Homo sapiens: one gene and its partners. The protein of the gene in region 1 interacts with the protein of each later gene in a biochemical or structural test. Each region holds a gene or a part of one and is shown on either strand. Other genes may lie near its edges.

Region 1 (7,029 bases):
GCAGCGATAACAGCATTAAACCAAGCTCAGGGCCCCTGAGTGCGGGGCTCTGTACAATTGCACGAGTTGCTCACCTGTGAAGCTGGCCCTGCGGCCGTGTGTGCCTGTGAGCTTATACCTTCGCATACGTGCGTCCTTGTATTTATAGCATGTGAGCTCAGCCCGATGGCATCGCAATTTGTATGCATTTCACCTGCTTGCCACCAATGAGAGCGTATGTGTAAAACCTCCTCCCTTCCCCAGAAAAGTAAATCACGCAGACTTCTTTCCTATAGATTTGGATTGCCTCTAGTCATGAATGAGTCTTCCAGACAGGGAAATTGATACGGAAATCTGTGGAATAGCTTGTTTGTGGTGGGAGGAAAATCAAGGACATATTGTTAACGTGTTTTCACCTACTTTTACTGCACACCTGTAATGCCTAGTTCGGTGGTTTAGAGAATATGGAGTGTTTCTGGGCTTTCTTATAAGGCAGAGGCTCCATACAAGGTTGCTGATGATTGTTCTAAATTCCCATTGTTTTCTTGGCTTTTCTCCCTTGGTTTATGTGTCGTCTGGAAACTGATTTGTAGTTGGTGAGGTAACATACGTGGAGCTCTTAATGGACGCTGAAGGAAAGTCAAGGGTAAGTGTCTGAGAGAATTTCTTCTGTGGATTTACTACATGAAAAATGTAACTGTATGGTGGCGTGGAATCGAATGAAATCAGGAAGGCAGTGAGTGCTCATGTTACAGTAGCTATGTTTGATTTTGCCAAACATTTGAGTGGGGTGGGAGGGGATTTGCAAATGGGAGTCCCGCTTTTCCAAATGGCTGGCCAAAGAGCTTTTTGGTATTCTGTTTGGATGCCCAATTTGGATAACTGGGGACCAATAGCAGCATTGTCTCTTTGTTAACAGAGGAATTGGCTGTGTGTGAATTATGCATGGAATTTTAGCGGTGGTATAATTAATGTAAAACGTGTGTTCTTGTCTAGAAAATGTTACTCTTGGTTGTTTGCTGAATTTGAAAGTTGTGTGAACCAAAGATTCCGAAAAGTTGCCTTTGTGCCAGTAAATTGTAAACCAAATATTAAAAACCTGAATGTTCAAAATTGGCCTAGTTTAAAGAGAACATAAACTATTTTCTGTCGTGCAATAGAATGGCTTAGAATAATCAAAAGGATGAGCTTAACTTACGGAAGGGATGGATTTAGGAGGAATATGGTAAGGACTCGATTGAGTACAGAGGGAAGCAGATCTAAAGTTGGTGTGATTTCTTGGAGACCCTGAATTTAGGTCTGCTTATTAAATGTCAGCAGCTCTAGTGCAATGCTGGTAACGCGTAGGAGAAGGAGATATTAAGGAGCCCAGCTTTTAACAAGGAAGGCGAGGCGAGGCACTTCTGTCAGCTTCCCCTTAGAAGGGTTCATTTTAAAAGACTAACTTTGTGACATAAATCATATTTTTAGTTTGTTTATAACTGTCATTGATATTTACTATTTTTTTCTTTTCTTTTTCCCCTTCCTTGCTCTTCTGACTGGTCTCTGGCTTCCTCCAAAGGGATGTGCGTAAGTATCGTCTAGTTACTTATTGGTATTTGAGCCTTCTAACTTGTAGGACTGGTTTCACTCGACTCGTTTCCTTTTGACTCTATAGTGTTGTTGAATTCAAGATGGAAGAGAGCATGAAAAAAGCTGCGGAAGTCCTAAACAAGCATAGTCTGAGCGGAAGACCACTGAAAGTCAAAGAAGTAAGCTCTTGCTTAACACTGCGGATACTGTGTGTAATTGTTGAGTGATCCTACTTTGGAATTAGGGAAAGACGGTCATGGTCCCAGACGGCATTTACAAAGCAAGTGCCAGCCTGTTGTTTCTAATGAAGAGTGTCGGTCATAGCCTACAGCAGCCATTCCCTGCAAGGACTTTGGGGTGGTGGCCAAGCAGATCCTGAGTGGCTGCTGACCACCTTCTAATATCTGTGATTTGTCTGAGGCCTTGTTGTCTCAGGGACTCTCAAACCATGAGCCCGTGGGTTTGTGCCATTAAGTTTTACTCCATCTGACCCTTCTTCTTGGCCCATCTTTTTTCTTTTTTTAAAAAGTGAGTTTGTTCCAGCCTGGGCAACATGGTGAAACCCCCTCTCTACAAAAGGTACAAAAATTAGCCAGGCATGGTGGCGCATGCCTGTAGTCCTAGCTACTTGGGAGGCTGAGGCAGGAGGATCATTTGAGCCCAGGATGTGGAGGTTGCAGTGAGCTGAGATTGCACCATTGCACTCCAGCCCGGGCAACAGTGAGACCCTGTCTAAAAAATAAAAAAATAAAGTGAGTTTGTTATTCCTCAAACCTGCTTTCACATCTCATCTGAATCAAATATATTCCTTGAGGAAGAAGGTTTTTTTGTTGATTAAATCCCTCTTGGCTGGGCGCAGTGGCTCACGCCTGTAATCCCCAGCACTTTGGGAGGCTGAGGTGGGTGGATCAAGGTCATGAGTTCAAGACCAGCTTGACCAACATGGTGAAACCCTGTCTACTAAAAATACAAAAAATTAGCTGGGCGTAGTGGGGGGTGCCTGTAATCCATCTACTCGGGAGGCTGAGGCAGGAGAATCGCTGGAACCCAGGAGGCGGAGGTTGCAGTGAGCCGAGATCGCGCCATTGAACTCCAGCCTGGGCAGTAAGAGCAAAGCTCTGTCTCAAAAAAACATCCCTCTTAACTTCTTTTCACCTCTTCTCTTGGGGAGGAAGATGAGTAGATTCAGAGTGAAGCTTGGTAGGGTCTAAGGTCTCTCATGTGTTATGATGTCTTTTTTAGTGCTGATGGTGGTAATTGACAGGACAGAGAGTTGAAGAAGAGAGTCAGTACAGAGCTTCACAGACCTTCCCAGATGTTGTTTTACTGCGCAGCCCTCACACACACGCCTCCAACACCTGAAGGACTTGAAGGATGGGGGCGCTTGTGTGGTCTAGAACTGTTTCTCAAACTTCTGGAAGCCATTGACGGGGTTTGCAGAAGTTACAAAACCCCATTGATGAATTAGTAAGATTCAGCTATACCAAGCCCATGAAGCTCTAATTTCAGTCTGGCGGTTCTACATTATATCAGCTAATCATGTTTCCCTCCCTACCCTGCTTTTCTTTTTTACTTAGTGCAATTGAGAGCTGTGTTTTTAGTGCTACACTTCATGCCTTTTCTTCCTTTCCTATTTCTTTAGCTGGACTCTTCTAAGCTGGTAGTTGAGTTCATTTGACTTTCTTGTTAATAGATTTGAGAGATGCTTTCCAAACAACCTTTCAGTTTCTAAGTCTTGAGAATATCATTTACTGTGCAAGCATGGTTTGCGTTGTACTGGGTCAGTTAAACGTAACACCTTTTGTGCTTGTTTTAGGATCCTGATGGTGAACATGCCAGGAGAGCAATGCAAAAGGTGATGGCTACGACTGGTGGGATGGGTATGGGACCAGGTGGCCCAGGAATGATTACTATCCCACCCAGTATCCTAAATAATCCCAACATCCCAAATGAGATTATCCATGCATTACAGGCTGGAAGACTTGGAAGCACAGTATTTGTAGCAAATGTAAGTAAACAGAACCATCGTCTAAAGTAGAAAATCAGAACTTTATGAAATGACCTTGTCAATATGTTATAAAAGTAATTCTCACATTTGAGAAGAAAAATGTAAAGAAGGGTTTTGTTCTTGATTTCTTTAAAAATCAGCCTTATAGGCGGGCTTTGTCTGCATTCCTAAGTCACAGGCTTGACCGTGGTCTCGTTGGGGCTGTGATTCCTGAGTTTCGCAGGTGTTTCCGCAAGCAGTAACCGAGTCTGCATTCTCCGTTGGTTTATTTTATGCAGTTTTGGTGCAGAGTAAGACTGTACGAGCAGAAGTGCACTGACACCTTCCTCTTGTTGTGTCTGGGGTGAATGATAATACCTCCACCATCTGCAAGGGGAAATATTTTTAGAATAAAGTAGGTTGGGTGGGGTGGGGAGTGGTAAAGCTTATCAGGGAAACAATTTTTTAAAAATGTTCAGAAAATGAGTATTAATTTGAAGTATGAGGTGACTTAAGTTTCTGAGAAAAGAGACAATATATTTACTATAGGTACAGTTTATTTACAGTGAAGGCCAGGCTTTATAATCCTATTTTAAAATTTCCATTGCAGTTGATTAGTTTTTGTGACATTATTTCCTAATACTTTTTTCCAACCAAAGCATGTATCATTCATGTAGTAAAAATGTTGTGTTTCTTAAGATGTTTACATTGAGGTTTTTACCCCGTTCTCTCTCGATTAGCTGGATTATAAAGTTGGCTGGAAGAAACTGAAGGAAGTATTTAGTATGGCTGGTGTGGTGGTCCGAGCAGACATTCTTGAAGATAAAGATGGAAAAAGTCGTGGAATAGGCACTGTTACTTTTGAACAGTCCATTGAAGCTGTGCAAGCTATATGTATCCTTCTGCAGGAATTCAACTTATGAACAGTTTGACCTAAATTGCTGTGTTAGTAATGTAGGTTTGTGTGAGGAAGAGGTGACTGTGTGTATTCATGTTTTTTATGTGACTAGGGGGAGTGCATTACTGTGGAATTAAGAGGTTCTCTGGGCCGGACCGGTCACGGTGGCTCACGCCTGTAATCCCAGCACTTCGGGAGGCCAAGGCGGGCGGATCACTTGAGGTCAGTTCGAGACCAGCCTGGCCAACATGGTGAAACCCCGGCTCTACTAAAAAATGCAAAAATTAGCTGGGCGCAGTGGTGGGTGCCTGTAATCCCAGCTACTCGGGAGGCTGAGGCACAAGAATCGCTTGAACCCGGGAGGTGGAGGTTGCAGTGAGCCGAGATTGCGCCACTGCACACCACCAGCCTGGGTGATAGAGTGAGACTCAGTCTCAAAAAAAAAAAAAAAAAAAAAAAAGGTTCTCTGGGGGTGGAATTGATTCAATACAGTGTGGATAGAGGGGATGGTTACAACATGGGCATATGCCCATGAGTCTTTCTACTGTTTTCTTTTCAGAAGAGTCTAGGTTTGAAGGAGGAAGTCCAAAGAATGTGCTACTAGAGAGAAAGTGGGGTTGTTGTTTCATGTGTAATACATCCTTATAGGACCTCACTCTTTCCAGTGAGTAGACATCATTTTGGAAGAGGCCACTTCTCCTTGACCCTAGGCTTAGCCTAGAGTTTTTAATCCCTTGGAGAGTACCCCACAGGAGCACATTCATACAACTCAGACAAGACCGTCACTGCATGTCTTACCCAGAAAACATGGTCCTTCAGTTTAGATAGTGGTAGATGCCTGGCCCATTGGTCACATTCAGAGAACCTTGATGCCACTGCTTAAGAGGATGGTTTGGTGAAATTGTAAGGTTACGAATGAAGCTTCACACCTAAGGAATAAGCGGAAGTTGTCTTGTCCTCCCCGCCAGCTTTATTTATTGTTCCTTTTATGTTTATTGTTGAAAGTATAATGAAGAATTGAAATTGCTCATAAATTCATCACTTAGAGGGACTGGTAGCAGTTGGAGTATTTTTCTTTCTTTTTGTATTTCTCTTGTGCACATTTTTAGAATTGCAAGAAATAGCCTTAATTGTAATACCAGCTATGTTCAATGGCCAGCTGCTATTTGATAGACCAATGCACGTCAAGATGGTAAGTCAGTAGGATCTTTCTCTGTGATATACTCAAGTCTAGCAAAAACATGGAATTAATAAGAGTGTACATATAGCCACTATGAAATATTTGTGGATTAGTCTAAGTTAAATAGGGTGCAGTATGTTGAGCAAAATTGTGAGAGAAATAACATTTTGCTGGTCAGGCGTGGTGGTTCACGCCTGTAATCCCAGCACTTTGGGAGTCTGAGGCAGGCGGATCATGAGGTCAGCAGTTCGACACCAGCCTGACCAACGTGGTGGAACTCCTCCGTCTCTACTAAAAATACAAAAATTAGCCGGGCGTGGTGGCACGCGCCTGTAGTCCAGCTACTCGGGAGGCTGAGGCAGGAGAATCACTTGAACGTGGGAGGCAGAGGCTGCAGTGAGCCGAGATCGTGCCACTGCACTCCAGCCTGGGCAACAGAGTGAGACTCTGTCTCAAGAAAAAAAAAGAAGAAAAAAAAACATTTTGCTCATGGCAGCTCTTGACTGCATTAGATATTTTTCCTTTTGCACAGTTGACTGTTCATGGCGCATTCAGGAAGTCACCTGGGTATCCTGGTTGAGCAAGTGATCCGTTTCAAAGAATGGTTATATATGTGGGGTTCCAGTTTTTCAAAGTATTACAGTATAATGTTTGGTTAGCATCAAATCTGTTGTGAACATAATTAAGTCATTGATTCAGACAGCTTTTAAAGGTCTGTTGGAGCACTTCAATCTTAATAAACATTTGCTCTGCCGTAACTGTGCCAAAGATAATAATTACTACAGGCATGACTGGAACATGCTGAGGGCAGTCTAGTTGGGACTCAAATTCAGGAAAAAGATAAACTATAAAGCAATTTTTTCATTACTCTAAATAGAGTAGGTAAGTTTTTTGAATAGATGATAGATTCACGTGACTCAAAAGTCAAAAGGCATGAAAAGGTAGTGTGAAGATAGTGTGAGTCCTACTTGGACTTCTTGCCCAGGTCCCCATCATCCCCCACAATAATATCCATGTGTCTTTTCCCTTGACATAAAATAGGAAGCATGCTCCGCATGCCTTTCTACCCTTGCGTATTACTCCATGGCGTGGATAATGTGTTTAGCTGGTCCTCTCTTGATGGGGGGCCATTTCAGTCTTTTGCTGTTGCAAACACTGCTGCACTGGATACTGAGATTTGTTTGTTTTCTTTCTCTTTCAGGATGAGAGGGCCTTACCAAAAGGAGATTTCTTCCCTCCTGAGCGTCCACAACAACTTCCCCGTAAGTGTTTCAGTGATTAGGGCTGAGAGTTTGAATTGGAGTTACACTAATAAACAGAAAATTACCATATGGTTTCACTTGAACCTGTGCCAGGTTAGCCCTCAGTTCTCTTGGCCAGTTCTTTTCTATAGATTTTTCAGGGTGAGAAATG
Region 2 (6,156 bases), on another chromosome or scaffold:
ATGGGAGACCACCCTCCTGTGGGTAGAATACACCAGAGGGCCCAGGCTTGACTCTGTCCTGTGTTAAGGAGGCATCGGTAGTTTTGCTGAGCTTGTCAGGTGTTTATAATGGACAGTTGGAGATTGGGGTCCTAGGCTTAGGTCTTTGAGAGCCTCTGTGTCCAGGAGAGCCCAGTAGGCATCCAGCCATTTACTGCTTTAATAGGGTAGCATGAGGCTGAGAGGGATAGTTTCTTGCATCCAAAGCCCTTAGGCACCTTATGTCCATCCTAAGTGGGCCAGAGACTCCAGGGCTGCATAGAGCTTGCCAGAGCTTCTATAATGAAGGGGTCTCTGAGGGCACCAACAGGAGTGCCCATGGATTTTAAGGTTTGATTATAGAGGTTGTTTATGGAGGGTGCCCCATTTAAAGCAAGCTGATTTGTAAGCAGCAGCAAGAAGATTAAGTAAAATTTGTAAATGAGGACTACATTGCCATCAGAACCTCGAAAGTATCTAAAGATGTTGGACTTGTATGTCCTTAATGAGTGTGACAATGAGTTTCCTCATTTGTGCTCCTGGAGAAGGCGGATGTGGTGAAGACCCTGTCTGCAGACATTGTGTGCCATGGCAAAGCCGTGGAGCTCCCTGTGGGTGGCCTGCAAAGGTGTATGTGCCCCTCAGGGCAGAAGGCAAACGGCAGCCAAGAAGCTGTGCAAGTAGACACTTAATGGGACATGTTAGCCAAATCTGTAAGAGCAAAATATTGGCCAGTTATTTATTGTGTAGAATTAATAATTTTAATAATAATGGAAATTGGGTAATGGATGGGACTGCAGCAATAAGGTTGTAGTAATCCACCATGAGGCACACTTGTTTTTTTCCAGGTTTAAGGATAGGAAAGATTGGGCTGTTCAATGGAGAAACAAGGGTATAATCACCCCTTTATTAATTAGTAAGTTTTAATCCTTGAATACCTCATATTAACTGTTTTAACTGGAGGTCCATGGGGCATCATTTTATCAAGCTAGTTTATAACTGCCAAAGACTGACTTTAATTTTAATTTATTATTTGTTTTATTAGAGTGTCTGTGTTCAATATGGGATATTAGGGCGTTGGGTACTATGACCACAGGAAATTTAGACAGGCTACAGTTAAAGTGAAGCATACCTTACCCATCCACCCCCCATTTTATATTTAGTTGCCTTTTTAAAAAGATTATAGGGGTACAATGTTTAGATTTAGTGGGATCTCCAGGTATAACTGTAATTTGAGCCCCAGTGTTAAGACTATGAAGCTTTGTCAATGGGTACATTTTAGCAAATGTTACAATTAATTTAGAACCTAAGTTATGGAGACACAAAAGCCAATAGGCACCCTTTTATGTTTTGGTTAAATGTTTCAGTATATACATCTTATTTATTTGTAATATTAGTATATAATTTGTTGTATACATTTTTAGTGTATAAGCGTTGGATTTCTAATTGGATCAGATTAGGGACCTTCCGTTTAGCTGCATATGTACATATACATGTACAATTTATTATATATTTGCGTTAAAATAGCCTATCTGCATGTGTATATATGTGTGTATGTGTATGTATATGCACTCACACGCATAAATACACAGTCTATTTAGTTACCTTTAATGTTTTTTCCCTTGTACCTAGGCTTTTTCTCGCTTTTTCCTTTTTTTCTGATTTTGTGGCAATTTAGTTGGAAGGAGGCGGTCCCAGCATGTTGACAGGCAGGGTGTTCAGAGTGCCCAGGCACACTGGTGGGGGGTGGTTACAGGCTCACGTAGCTCAGGGGCTTCTGCAGGTCTCAGGGGAGTGGGAACAAAGTGTCCCACCCCTTCCCCTTTTCCTCAAACCTCAAGCCACTGGTCTCTATGGATAGATCCTTTGCATCCCACCGGATTGAGGAATGAGTCACAACAGCTGCAAGGCTCTTAAAGCAACATTTAAACCTTTTGGCGGCTGTCATTTCTGTGAGGAGGGTGCCTCTCACCGGCCGCATGGCCGGAGGATCCCTGCAGCGCTTTGGAGACCAACACCCAGATCCTTTGCCCAGGAGTGCGATTAATTCCTCACTGGATGCTGGGGGAGGGCCCCTCAGGTGAGCAGCCCACCACTGACTTCAGCGTTGCTGGCTCGGTTATCAGACTCTCATCCAACACAAGCTCACAGGGAAAGCCGTTCCTTGCTCCTTGTGGAGGGAGCTACCGTCATTGCCCTGAGACCACCAGCCAAGAAAGTAGGTATGTCCAGGTAGGGAATTCAGAGGGACCCAGTGCATCCAATTATACAATTATACCCAGAAGGTCCTGTGTAGGGGACTGCGATTGACATCACCCTAGTCTGCAGCACCAAGGACTGAATGAGCTCAGTCCTCTTATAATTTAGGCTGGACTGTCACAGACACTGGCAGACACAGCATACGTGGTGCAGCCAAAGTGCAAACATGCCAGCAGCGGCCATGCTCCCCAGGGTGGGGGTCCAGTTAGTAAGCCACGCGCAGCCAAGAGGCGAGGCATGCCCTGTGCCACACACGGACTCACCCTGCTCACTGTGCCCGTGGTATCGAAATGTACCCACGTTTAATTCATAAAGGAGAGGCTGCTGTCATTGAAAGAAAAGTTTGTTACTTGCATTTCTGGAGAAAAGGAGCGCACCAGGCCACGCAGGGCCACAGGAGGAGGACGCACCAGAGTGGTCAGGAGGCAGAACTAGGCGAGCAGCTTTCCACTGTGTCTCCATGGCAAAGGCGAAGATGGGCGGGGGCAGAGTGTAGGATTGGCAGGTTTGAATGTCTTGGGCAGTAGCTACAGGGGTGGTCTCCAGCTGCCTGGTGCCTGGCCCTGGGTGATCAGGGTGAGGGGATACTGCCTTCTGCAGTGGAAGAGTCAAATCGAGGAGATGGACTCTGAGTTGGTTAGTGTGCAAAGGTGCACTCCCAAGGGACCCCTTTGCTATCTCTAAGAATTGGCCTGCCCTGGGAAGGGCAGTCTCTCCCCAGTCAGTGAGGTCCCCAAGATGTGAAAACATTATACATTATAAAAAAGCATGATTAATATAAGCTCATTCTAGCATTTCAGGTTACAGCTTCTAGAAGAGGTTTGTAGTCTCAAATGAGTAGGTTTTTCCTCTAGAGAGGGGCGGGCCTGGACCTTCAAGCACCCCTTGGTGTGTTTAGGAGCTCAGGAGCAGAAGCACCTGCCTGCAGCCCTGCAGCTAAGGAAGTTCTCTCAGTCACTCAGAGCAGGGAGGGGCTGAGAGAGTCATGTGAGGCTCCCGGGGTACTACGACAGCCCTCGAGGTGAAGGATTGGCCCTGATCATAATAGAGAACCCTGAGGAAGTTTACTGTCATGAGTCTCGGCTGGTTGGCGCATGTGACCTTTGAAGGATGAAGATGGAGTTTGCAACATGAGTATCTCTAACCTTTTGCTTTTCAGGGATCATTTTCAAAAATTGCATTGGGGCCTTCGTTATTTACCATAGTATTTTCACTTTCATAGTTTTGTCACCTTTTTGTACTGTGAACAGTTCAACCAGTGACCGACTTCTCTCTCATGCTGTTTACCCCACACACAATTTCCCACTCAATTCTGAAAATAAGAACCTGTTAATAGGTTGGAAAGCTGTGTACTCTATTCATATATTGTTCTTTCATGCTAGTGGAGAGTGGTGTCATTAGCATCTTAATTTTAGAGTTGTGAAATGATTTTACCAATTAGGAATTGAATGTGTATTTTTTTTCTGTTTAATAAGAAGAGCAAATTTGAATAAATAAGCTGGTGTAGATAAACTTAATAATCATGCTTTTTCTTGTTTGGAGATAGGTGATGTGTTGTCATATCCTGTGATACAGGTCACTCATCTGGCCTTCTGTTTCTGAAGTTTAAGTCTGGTTTGAATATGTAATAATACTACTCAGCATTTCTTGTTGCCTAAGTGAGACGAAACTTAAATGTTATGATATTTACTTCATGTATTCTTGTACTGTTCATTTCAATTAATTGGTATTGTATATCTAATATGTGATATTTGAACTGAATAAAACTTACAGTGTTGTAAATGTTCTTTAATAAATAATCACACCTAAGTAATAGGCTAGACTGATGAGAAATTAGATCAAATCAGTGCCTAGGCCTTTGTGTTTGTGTCGTAGGGATGTACTAACACATCACCACAGACTGACGGCTTTTCACAATAAATCAGTTTTCTTCGCTCACATTTCTGGACATTAGAAATCCAAAGCCAAGGTGCCAGTAGGGCCGGGCTTTCTCTGAAGGCCCCAGGAAAACTCCTCCTTCATCTCCTCCAGCTGGTGTGGCTGCTGGCCGACCTCGGCCTTCCTCGGCCAGCGGCTGCATCACTCCAGTTTCCGTGTCCATCGTCACATGGCCTTCTTCCCTCTGTGTGTCTGTGTCCAGATATCCCTTTCCTTATATAAGGACACCAGTCATTAGATTTAACTTCCACCCTAATCCAGGATGACCTCATCTTAACTTGATTACATCTGCAAAGACTGTATTTCCAAATAAGGTTATATCCACAGGTTCTAGTGGACATGAATTTTAGAGGAACAGTATTCAACACAGTGCAGATGTGGAACGATTCCAATTTAATTTTAGTAGGAAAAAAAAGGAAAGAGGGCTGCCAATGGCTTTGGCTTAAAACCATAATTACTTTTAAAAATCATTTCTATCCAAGGCAGATAAGATTTAATAAGAACTGAAGCTTGTATAGTTGTTTATTTGGGAGGAAGGGGGTAGTGCTTCTTAAGAAAAGGAATATGAATTGCAAATACTGAGTTAACTATGAAAGCATATATTTATTTGGAATTTTTAGAGGCATAAATTACAATATTTAAAACAGCATAACACTCTACAAAATACTGAAAAGTATTTTTATTAACTTCCTGGCACCTTTATGATACCTTTCCCATCTTTTTTTTTCTTTTTTTTAACCTACATACTCTGGTTAGTTTGTTTGTTTATTTATTTATTTATTTTCTTCTTGGGGGACATGGTCTTGCTGTGTCATCCAGGCTGGAGGGCAGTGGTACAAGCATAGCTCACTGCAGCCTCAACCTCTTGGGTTCAAAGGATTGTCCTGCCTCAACCTTCTGAGTAGCTGGGACCACAGGTGCATGCCGCTATACCCGGCTAATTTTTTTACTTTCTATGGAGACGAGGTCTAGCTGTGTTGCCCAAGCTGGTCTCAAATTCCTGGGCTCAAGCAGTTCTCCCACCTTGGCCTCCCAAAGTGTGAGATTGCAGGCATAAGCCACTGCACCTAACCCTGCATACTCTTTGATCATCTTTTTCTTCTTAGGACAATCTTGTGTTGGTTACTAAAGAGAGAATGATATTTAAGTTCTTCCTCTAACATGGATATGGGGCAAAAATCATAGACTAAAAGTTTCAGTTTTCACAAGTCATTATTGGTAATGTCATTTAAATAGGATGGTTGTCAAATCTGGGAAAACCTCTGATGAAGTCTTTTATATGTGAGTTGTAAGGATCAGGCATTTTCCCGCTTCCTCATGCAGTGACTAATCTTAACTCCTTCAGCACTGTTGGATGAAACTTTCTGTGATGACGGACATTGTTGGAAATAAAGCTCGGAGTCATAAGGAAAATGAGTACTTAGACATGCTCTGTATTTGTGCTGTACAGTATGGTAGCCACCAGCCACATGTCACTTTTGAGCACTGACGATGTGGTTAGTGTGGCTGAGAAACTAAATTTTTTATTTAATTTGATTTTAACATTTGGCTTTTCCTCCAGAAAGCTGCCCCCTCCCGGCCCCGTGGCCCACCTCTGTGTCCCCAGCTGGGCCTCCCTCCAGGCCCAGTGACTGTGTCCACTGACTGGGGCCTGAGCCAGTGGATTTGGTGAAAACTAACCAAGGTTTATTATAAACAAAACTGTCCACCTCACTCACCCACCTGAATATGCTTGGAATGACTATTGAATCAATATGTTTAAAAATGAACAGGCGTATGCTTCTGGACAGGTTCCTCTTTATGTTCTTGAGATCTTTTCCTTCCTTTCCACATGAAGTCAGGTGTTTCAGTCAGGATGGGCTACATGATGCTGTGGTAAGAAGCATCCCCCACATCTCAGTGCTCTCCGTGGCAAAGGTTTATTTTTTACTGATCCAACAT
Region 3 (7,088 bases), on another chromosome or scaffold:
ATGCATACATTTAAGAAAGATTAGGCTGGGCACGGTGGCTCATACCTGTAATTTCAGCACCTTGGGAGGTCAAGGGGGGCAGATCACTTGAGCTCAGGAGTTTGAGACCAGCCTGGGCAACATGGTGAAACCCCATTTCTACAAAAAAATACAAAACTTAGCCAGGCATGGGGGTGCACGCCTGTAGTCCCAGCTACTCGGGAGGCTGAAGTTGGAAGATTGCTTGAGCCAGTGGGGTGGGGGTCAAGGCTGCAGTGACCCGAGACTGTGGCACTGCACTCCAGCCTGCACAGAGTGAGACTCTGTCTCAAAGAAAAGAAAAGAAAAGAAAGATTAATAAAAACAAGAAATGTACTCCCGCTTATTCCAGTTCAGGGTTACAGGTGGCCGGAGCCTATCCTGGCACAAGGCAGGAATCAGTTCTGGACAGCACACAGGACACCATCCCATTGCAGGGCACACTCACACACCCTGACACTCACTCAGACTGCAGGCTTGCAAATGAACCTCACCTGCACAGCTTTGGGATGTGGGAGGAAACCAGGGTATCTGGAAGAAACCCACACAGACAGTGGCCCTGGCCTCAAGCGGATTTTTTTTTTTTTTTGAGATGAGGTCTCGCCCAGGGTGGAGTGCAGTGGTGTGATCATGGCTCACTGCAGCCTCGACCACCCAGGCTCAAGTGATCCTCCCATCTCAGCCTCATGGGTAGCTGGGATCACAGGTGTGCACCACCATGCCCAGCTAATTTTTAATATTTTTGTAGGGATGGGGTCTCACTATGTTGCTCAGGCTGGTCTCAAACTCCTGGGCTCAAGCAATCCTCCTGCCTTGGCCTCCCCGAGTGTTGGAATTACGGGCATGAGCCACCATGCCTGGACTCATCAATGTTATCATGAAACGATCTTGCACAAAATGATGTTATTCAAGGATCTGCTGTATTAACAAAGGAGTGTATTAGCTTCCTAGGGCTGCCACAAGAAAGCACAATAAACTAAGTGGCTTAAAACAAGAGAAATGTATTCTCTTACAGTTCTGGAGGCTGGGAGTCCAAAATCAAAGTGTCAGCAGGGCTGGCTCCTTCTTGGGGCTCAGAGGGAGAATGTGTTCCATGCCTTCTCCTGGCTTCTGGTGGCTGCCAGAATCCTTGGCATTCCTTGGCTTGGAGCTGCATCACTCCAATCTCTGCCTCTTTCTTCCCATGATATTCCCCCTGTGTGTCTGTATCTTTTTTCTTCTCCACTTATAAGGACACTACTCATTGGATTTAGGGACAACCTACTCCAGTATGATCTCATTTTAACTTGATTACATCTGCAAAGACTCTATTTCCAAATAAGGTCACATTTACAGGTAGCAGGGGTTAGGACTTGAACATATCTATTTGGGGGGAATACAATTCAACTCTCAACAGGGAGAAACAGATTTTTTCATCTGACAGCTTCTTACAGGCTTTAATTTCAGTGACTCTGCAAGAGGGGAGGACATAAAAACCATGTTTTTTTTTATTTTTTGTTTTTTTTTAAATGGAGTATTTTATGTAACTGGTGTTCTAAGGAACATGTTTGGGGAAAAATGCCTTGGGTGAGTGAGACTATTTAGCAGTGGCCACTCACTTTACCAAAGATTCACAGTGACTGACCATATAGTCTGGTTGCCTAACGATAGATGCTTCTTATGGCTGTCCCTCAAGAGATTGTTGGCAGTCCCTGTGGCCTCTTTGTAAGGGTTCCCATACCTGGCTGGTGAGGCTGCAGTAGTATGGTGGGGGAGGCTGGCCAAGCAGGCCATCCTGGAGAACAGTGTGTTTGTGTTCTGATGTTTGTGGCTACAGTGCTCTGGTTTCAGACATCCTGGAACTTCCATGATGTTGCATTTTTCTGAATTCTGAAAGGGAATATACAATCTGCATGTTCAAAGGTGAAATGAGGGACAGTTGACAGGGCTGTTTTACCTGGATGAGTAAGTTGTACAATGCATGTCTCTAGGGGTGGAATTCACATAGTGGAGATGGTAGATCCAATTTTCTTGTAATAGAGTGCCCTGTTCTCAGAACACCAGTATTTTGTGACAATTTTCCAGCATGTGGCATAAAGTGTCTTGAGGAAGGGGCACCTTTTTCTAGTTCTCACAAAAGTAACATATGGTAAAGAGGTGGCCCTGAGTGGGAGGGAGAAGCCTTCATCAACTCTTGGAATGTGAGATCTGAAAGGCCTCTGACAGAGTATTGGTCCATCTCTGGAATTGTTAGGACTCTTCCTTACAAATAATAGAAACCCAATTCCAAGTGGCTAACACAAATAGGAAACTAATAATCAGAATGCAAGGACAGGAATGCAGCTGGGACTCAGGAACATGCTGGATCCAGGTACTCTGACATGGTCAGGACTTACATCTCTCTCTTTACCTGCTTTTTTCCCTTAGTCCAAAACATGGTGGTAGACAACTCCTGGGTGTCACGTGTTGGATGTTCAGCAGTCAGTAGAGACTGACCTCCTCTATGCTCCAGTGTTAAAATCTCGAAGACCTAGTATTTGATAGCACAACAGGGTGACTATAGTAAAAAATAATTTAATTGTACATTTAAATTAACTAAAAGATTATAATTGGATTGTTTGTAAAACAAAAGATAAACACTTGAGATGATGGATACCCCATTTACCCTGATGTGATTATTATGTGTTGTATGCCAGTATCAAAATATCTCATGTACCCCATAAATATGTGTGTACTATGTACCCACAAAAATTAAATATAACAAATTAAAAAAAAACCGCCCCATTACAGGAGAGGTCCAAATGAAAACATTTTGTTTGAGTTTAACTGGCCACAGGTCCAATGGTTTCTTATACACCACACAGTGGGTAAACAGCTCAAGGGCGGGCTGCCCGCCAGCATAAACCTTTGAGTGGCAAACACTACCAGGGTGGCCATGGAAAATGCCCTCTTGCTGACCATAATTGCACAGAATGTGTGTAAATAAAAGCTAAAAGGAAAAAGAAAATTCTGTAGCTCTTCCAGAAGAGGCAAACGGAGAAATGAAGAAATATAAAGAGATAGGCACTATATAAATACTAAGTACTATAAATAGGGCATTTCCCAACCCACTAAATATTTTGATATTTTCCAGGGATGGAGCCAGAGATGTTCTGGAAGGATGAAGGAGACTGCATGAGTAATTGGGGTGGGGTAGCAGAGAGTTTGCCAATCCCTACCTCACTGGGTTTTAGTTATGTTTCAGTTAATCTGCCTCCTCATTTACGAGGCGGGTATTGTTAGCTCCACTTTTCAGATGAGGATACTGAGATTCAGTAAGGTTATTACCCAAACTTATGAGAAAGCCAAGATTTCACAATATTTCAACCCAACTCGACTTTGTCTAATACCAGTGCGTACCAATGGCATTATTAATCCAGACTGGGCGATGAATTAAAAACTCTGACGTGACGTTTCTGCAGGTTTCTGGAAGAAGCCTGGATCACCTGGGGACGGGGTGAAGTTGGCGTTGCCCTCCTTGCAGTAATAGCTGCTATTGTTTTGCAGCAGTTATTATGGATCAGATACTGTGCTGGGTCTATGATCTCATTTAGCCCTTACGACAATCCTGTGAGGTTGGCATTACTATGATCTCTATTTTACAGGTTAGGAAACTGAGCCTTAAATAAACTACTGGATTTTCCTGAGTATTCTGTGAATAAATTCCTATTACTGAAATACTTGAAAGGGCTAGATTAATAAATTAACAAAGCCTTCTTCGGAGCAACTGTGCTGAAATTCCGTACGCGTGACGTTCCCACCCTCTGCCACTCGGTGACGTCACGATCAATCCCACCACTAAGTTCCCAGCCAAGCGCTACCGCCGCTATCTCGCGAGAGCCGTAGTTTCTTCCATTCTGTTTTGGACATGCGCGGGGCGTAAGGCGCTTTGGCCAGAGTGGTTTGATGGTTTTGTGTTAGTCTTCCTGCAGCTGAGCTTCCACAAGACACTTTTTCCCTTTCAGCCACCCAATATCTCGCGAGACTTGCTATTCTGCGCCCCCTCCCACCTTGCGCTTGCGCAGATCTTCAAAGCAGAAGGTCGCGCTTGGAGGAAGTGGCGGCTTTGAGTCCGGTGGCCCAATCGCTGTTACTACTTCTCTGAAGCTCCTCTCGGCTGCTTGCCGAGACACCCTGCCGCCAAGATGCCTCGAATTATGATCAAGGGGGGCGTATGGAGGAATACCGAGGTAAGTCTCCTTTTCCCGCCGTCCGCTGCCCGCCGCTCCCTCTAGCAGCTTGTGCGCACGCGCGCGGAGGTCGGGGGGGCGACGAGGAGACCCTGTGGGGTCTGCGTGGAGGGCAGCCCGGGGGCTGACCCTTGGGGCCCTTTCCGTGTGTCTGGCCCCGTGTTGTGCGAGCGCCAGTAGGACAGGGACCGTGATGTCACCACCTGGCTACTCGGCTCCAAGCTCACTTGTTAGGCCCTGAGTGAACATTTGTTGACTTGAATACGCCCCCTCCCACCCCGCCCCCCCGCCCCCCCCGGCCCCGGGAAGAACTCAGAGTTCCAACTCAGCCAGAGTTGGTCCCCCGGGGCACCATCCACTCTTAGTCCAGGCACCACGACTCTGTCTCATACTCAGAAATAAAGAAGTTGCCGTGGCCACAACTTTGTGTCTCCATTGACTTCCTTGCAGAGGGGAAGCAGTTTGAGTGCCAGGTTCAGAGAGCCCGTTTATGCCCGCATCTCTCTGGTTATCTGTTATCAGGGCATAACCTGTCTGCCATCTCGACAGATCCCAAGGTCTGTCTCTTTCTGTCACTGCCTTTGCCTAGATAGAAGCCAGAAAGGAAAAACTGGCCTAGGATAGTCTCTGTTTCCAGAAACGTAGTGGATAGTGCCATTGGTGAGCCAAAGGGCAGTAGAGTGGGAGTGAAATAGAAATTAGATTTTAGTGCGTTTTGTGTTCAGAGTGTACCGAATTTATCAGTTTCTGGAGCACATCATGTCTTTTCATGCTCTGTGTCTTTTTTTCGTTACATTTTATGGCTTCTTTTTTTTTTTTTTTTTACATCTTTTGCCTTCCTAGCGCTTGACATCTTTCTGATCATCCTTCAAACCTAGTTCGGAAACACTTCTTGGAATCTCTGTAAGAATTAATTGCACCCCCGATATTCTCATGATACCTTTTTCTTCCGTTTGTTAAAACTTGCTTTGTCTTTTTGTAAGCATCACATCCTCTGTGTGGTACTCGGTAAGTTTCTTAACTTCTGAAAGCCTCAGTTTTCTACTTTTTCTAAATTGGGATAATAATACTTAACCTCTCTTGAGGATTACACGAGTTAATACGTTTGGAATATTTAGATCAGAGTAGGGCACATAGTAGCCTCTGAGTAAGAGCTAGTTGCTCTTTCACCTCACCAGACAGCATGGCGAGAGGACCAGGTCTTGGTATCCCTAGGACCTAGGACAGTAACCAACATGAAGTAGGTTGCTCGACAGGTATTTGCAGAATGAATCAAGTAGAGTAGGTATCTGCTGTATCTATTTAATTGAAAATGTGTTTAAGTGTAGTTGTACTGCAACCAAGTTACAAAAAAGACAATGAAAACTGCCTCAGCTTCCACCGAGGGAACCAGACTGTTTAAATTGGAGAAGAGATGACTTCTGAGGGAGAGACAGATATAAAATCAAGTAACAGTAGGATTCCTATGCAGTGGTCAAAGCTCTGCAGTCTTTTTAAAAAGTATCTTTGATCATGGGAGATGTAGAGGATGGAGTGGGGTATCTCAAGAGGCACGTACCTCAAATCCAATGTGGGAAAAAAAGCCTAGAAGTAAAATCGCCTAAGTGCATGCATCTATGGCTCCATTAACTTTCTTGTCTTTGGCTTGGCTTGCCAGGCTTCCTTGAGGTTGGTGCATTCCACATGGCAATGGGTGCCCTGGTGAAATGGTATCTAGAGATGGGGGGAAATTGGAAGGAGAGCTGACTAGTGGGGTTGGGGTAGAAATATGTAATTCTTAGGTTAGACCTGAGATGTGGATTCTTGGGTCATAGTTGGGGTTAAGGGGCTGGAGGGGAAATGCCATGTATAAACTTGAGACAGGAGGCTTGGATTGGAGAATATATTCACCAGAGTCCCAACTTGCTTCTTGAGGCCTGGATATGTCCTGTTTGATAAGACCTTTCCCCAAGGGAAAGGTAGATGTTTCAAGGTAGATGTTCAGGAAGTGTTTTTTGAGTGAGTGTATAAATGAATGAGTTATACATTTTTGTTGTTGTTGTGTTTTTTAGTTATCCTTTTTGAAGAGAAGGACAGCCACACGTTGAAGAATACTTTTTCTTAATTTTTGTCATAAAGTAGGGTTTCTCAGATTGGGCTGTTCCCACTCCCAATTTATTGGAGAGTGTGGTGTAAGGGTGGGTAGCTGTCTTTCTAAGGGATTTCTTCTTAATTTCTCAATTCTTGGTTGCTGTTATTATAGTTAATGAGGTTTTCATCCTTAGTCTTTTAACCTAGGTGGTGTGTATGTGCATGTTATATGTCTCTTTCTCCAATAGCCCTATCAGAGTTAATTTAAATTTTGTCTTTTCCCACTTGGAGTTTTGTGACTGAATGTACTCTTTGGCAATTTTTTTTAGGATGAAATTCTGAAAGCAGCGGTAATGAAATATGGGAAAAATCAGTGGTCTAGGATTGCCTCATTGCTGCATAGAAAATCAGCAAAGCAGTGCAAAGCCAGATGGTATGTATCAGTTTAATAAGTGGAAAACAGAAAAGGAGCTTAATTATGATGATGGAAAATGTCAACTCTGTGAACCTTATCAAAGAAAGCAGACATTGTAATATAACAAGGCATGGAGTGGGAGATGGAAGTTGGGTGTTTGACTTAGCTGTCACTTGCTTCCTGTGTGGTCTTAGGCAAGCCATTTTTCTATCCCTCTCCCCTGCCCTTGTTTTCTCCCAATTAGGGATAATAATACTTGGTCCTGACTGATAGAGATGTGAGTTGTCATCTAAATGGGTTAATGTATTTGAGAGTGCTTTGTGAAGCATACAAAGTCTACTTTCAGGGACAGATGAGCCCCAGCTTGTAAATTAATT

Evidence for each region. The genes of interacting proteins can lie anywhere in the genome.
Region 2: the proteins of HNRNPM (region 1) and LONRF2 form a complex in vitro, tested with the Homo sapiens proteins (one study listed by BioGRID).
Region 3: the proteins of HNRNPM (region 1) and CDC5L form a complex in vitro, tested with the Homo sapiens proteins (one study listed by BioGRID and IntAct).

The regions. Positions count from the first base shown.
Region 1 is NC_000019.10:8,461,957-8,468,985, forward strand, and holds part of HNRNPM (heterogeneous nuclear ribonucleoprotein M), read left to right. Parts: intron 1-572; coding exon 573-625; intron 626-1,540; coding exon 1,541-1,548; intron 1,549-1,636; coding exon 1,637-1,730; intron 1,731-3,367; coding exon 3,368-3,559; intron 3,560-4,278; coding exon 4,279-4,432; exon of another isoform or gene 4,433-4,658; intron 4,659-5,545; exon of another isoform or gene 5,546-5,578; coding exon 5,579-5,628; intron 5,629-6,817; coding exon 6,818-6,878; intron 6,879-7,029. UniProt on the Homo sapiens protein: Pre-mRNA binding protein in vivo, binds avidly to poly(G) and poly(U) RNA homopolymers in vitro. Involved in splicing.
Region 2 is NC_000002.12:100,271,350-100,277,505, reverse strand, and holds the end of LONRF2 (LON peptidase N-terminal domain and RING finger protein 2), read left to right. Parts: 3' UTR 1-5,631; downstream 5,632-6,156.
Region 3 is NC_000006.12:44,383,643-44,390,730, forward strand, and holds the start of CDC5L (cell division cycle 5-like protein), read left to right. Parts: upstream 1-4,063; 5' UTR 4,064-4,181; coding exon 4,182-4,226; exon of another isoform or gene 4,227-4,277; intron 4,278-6,625; coding exon 6,626-6,729; intron 6,730-7,088.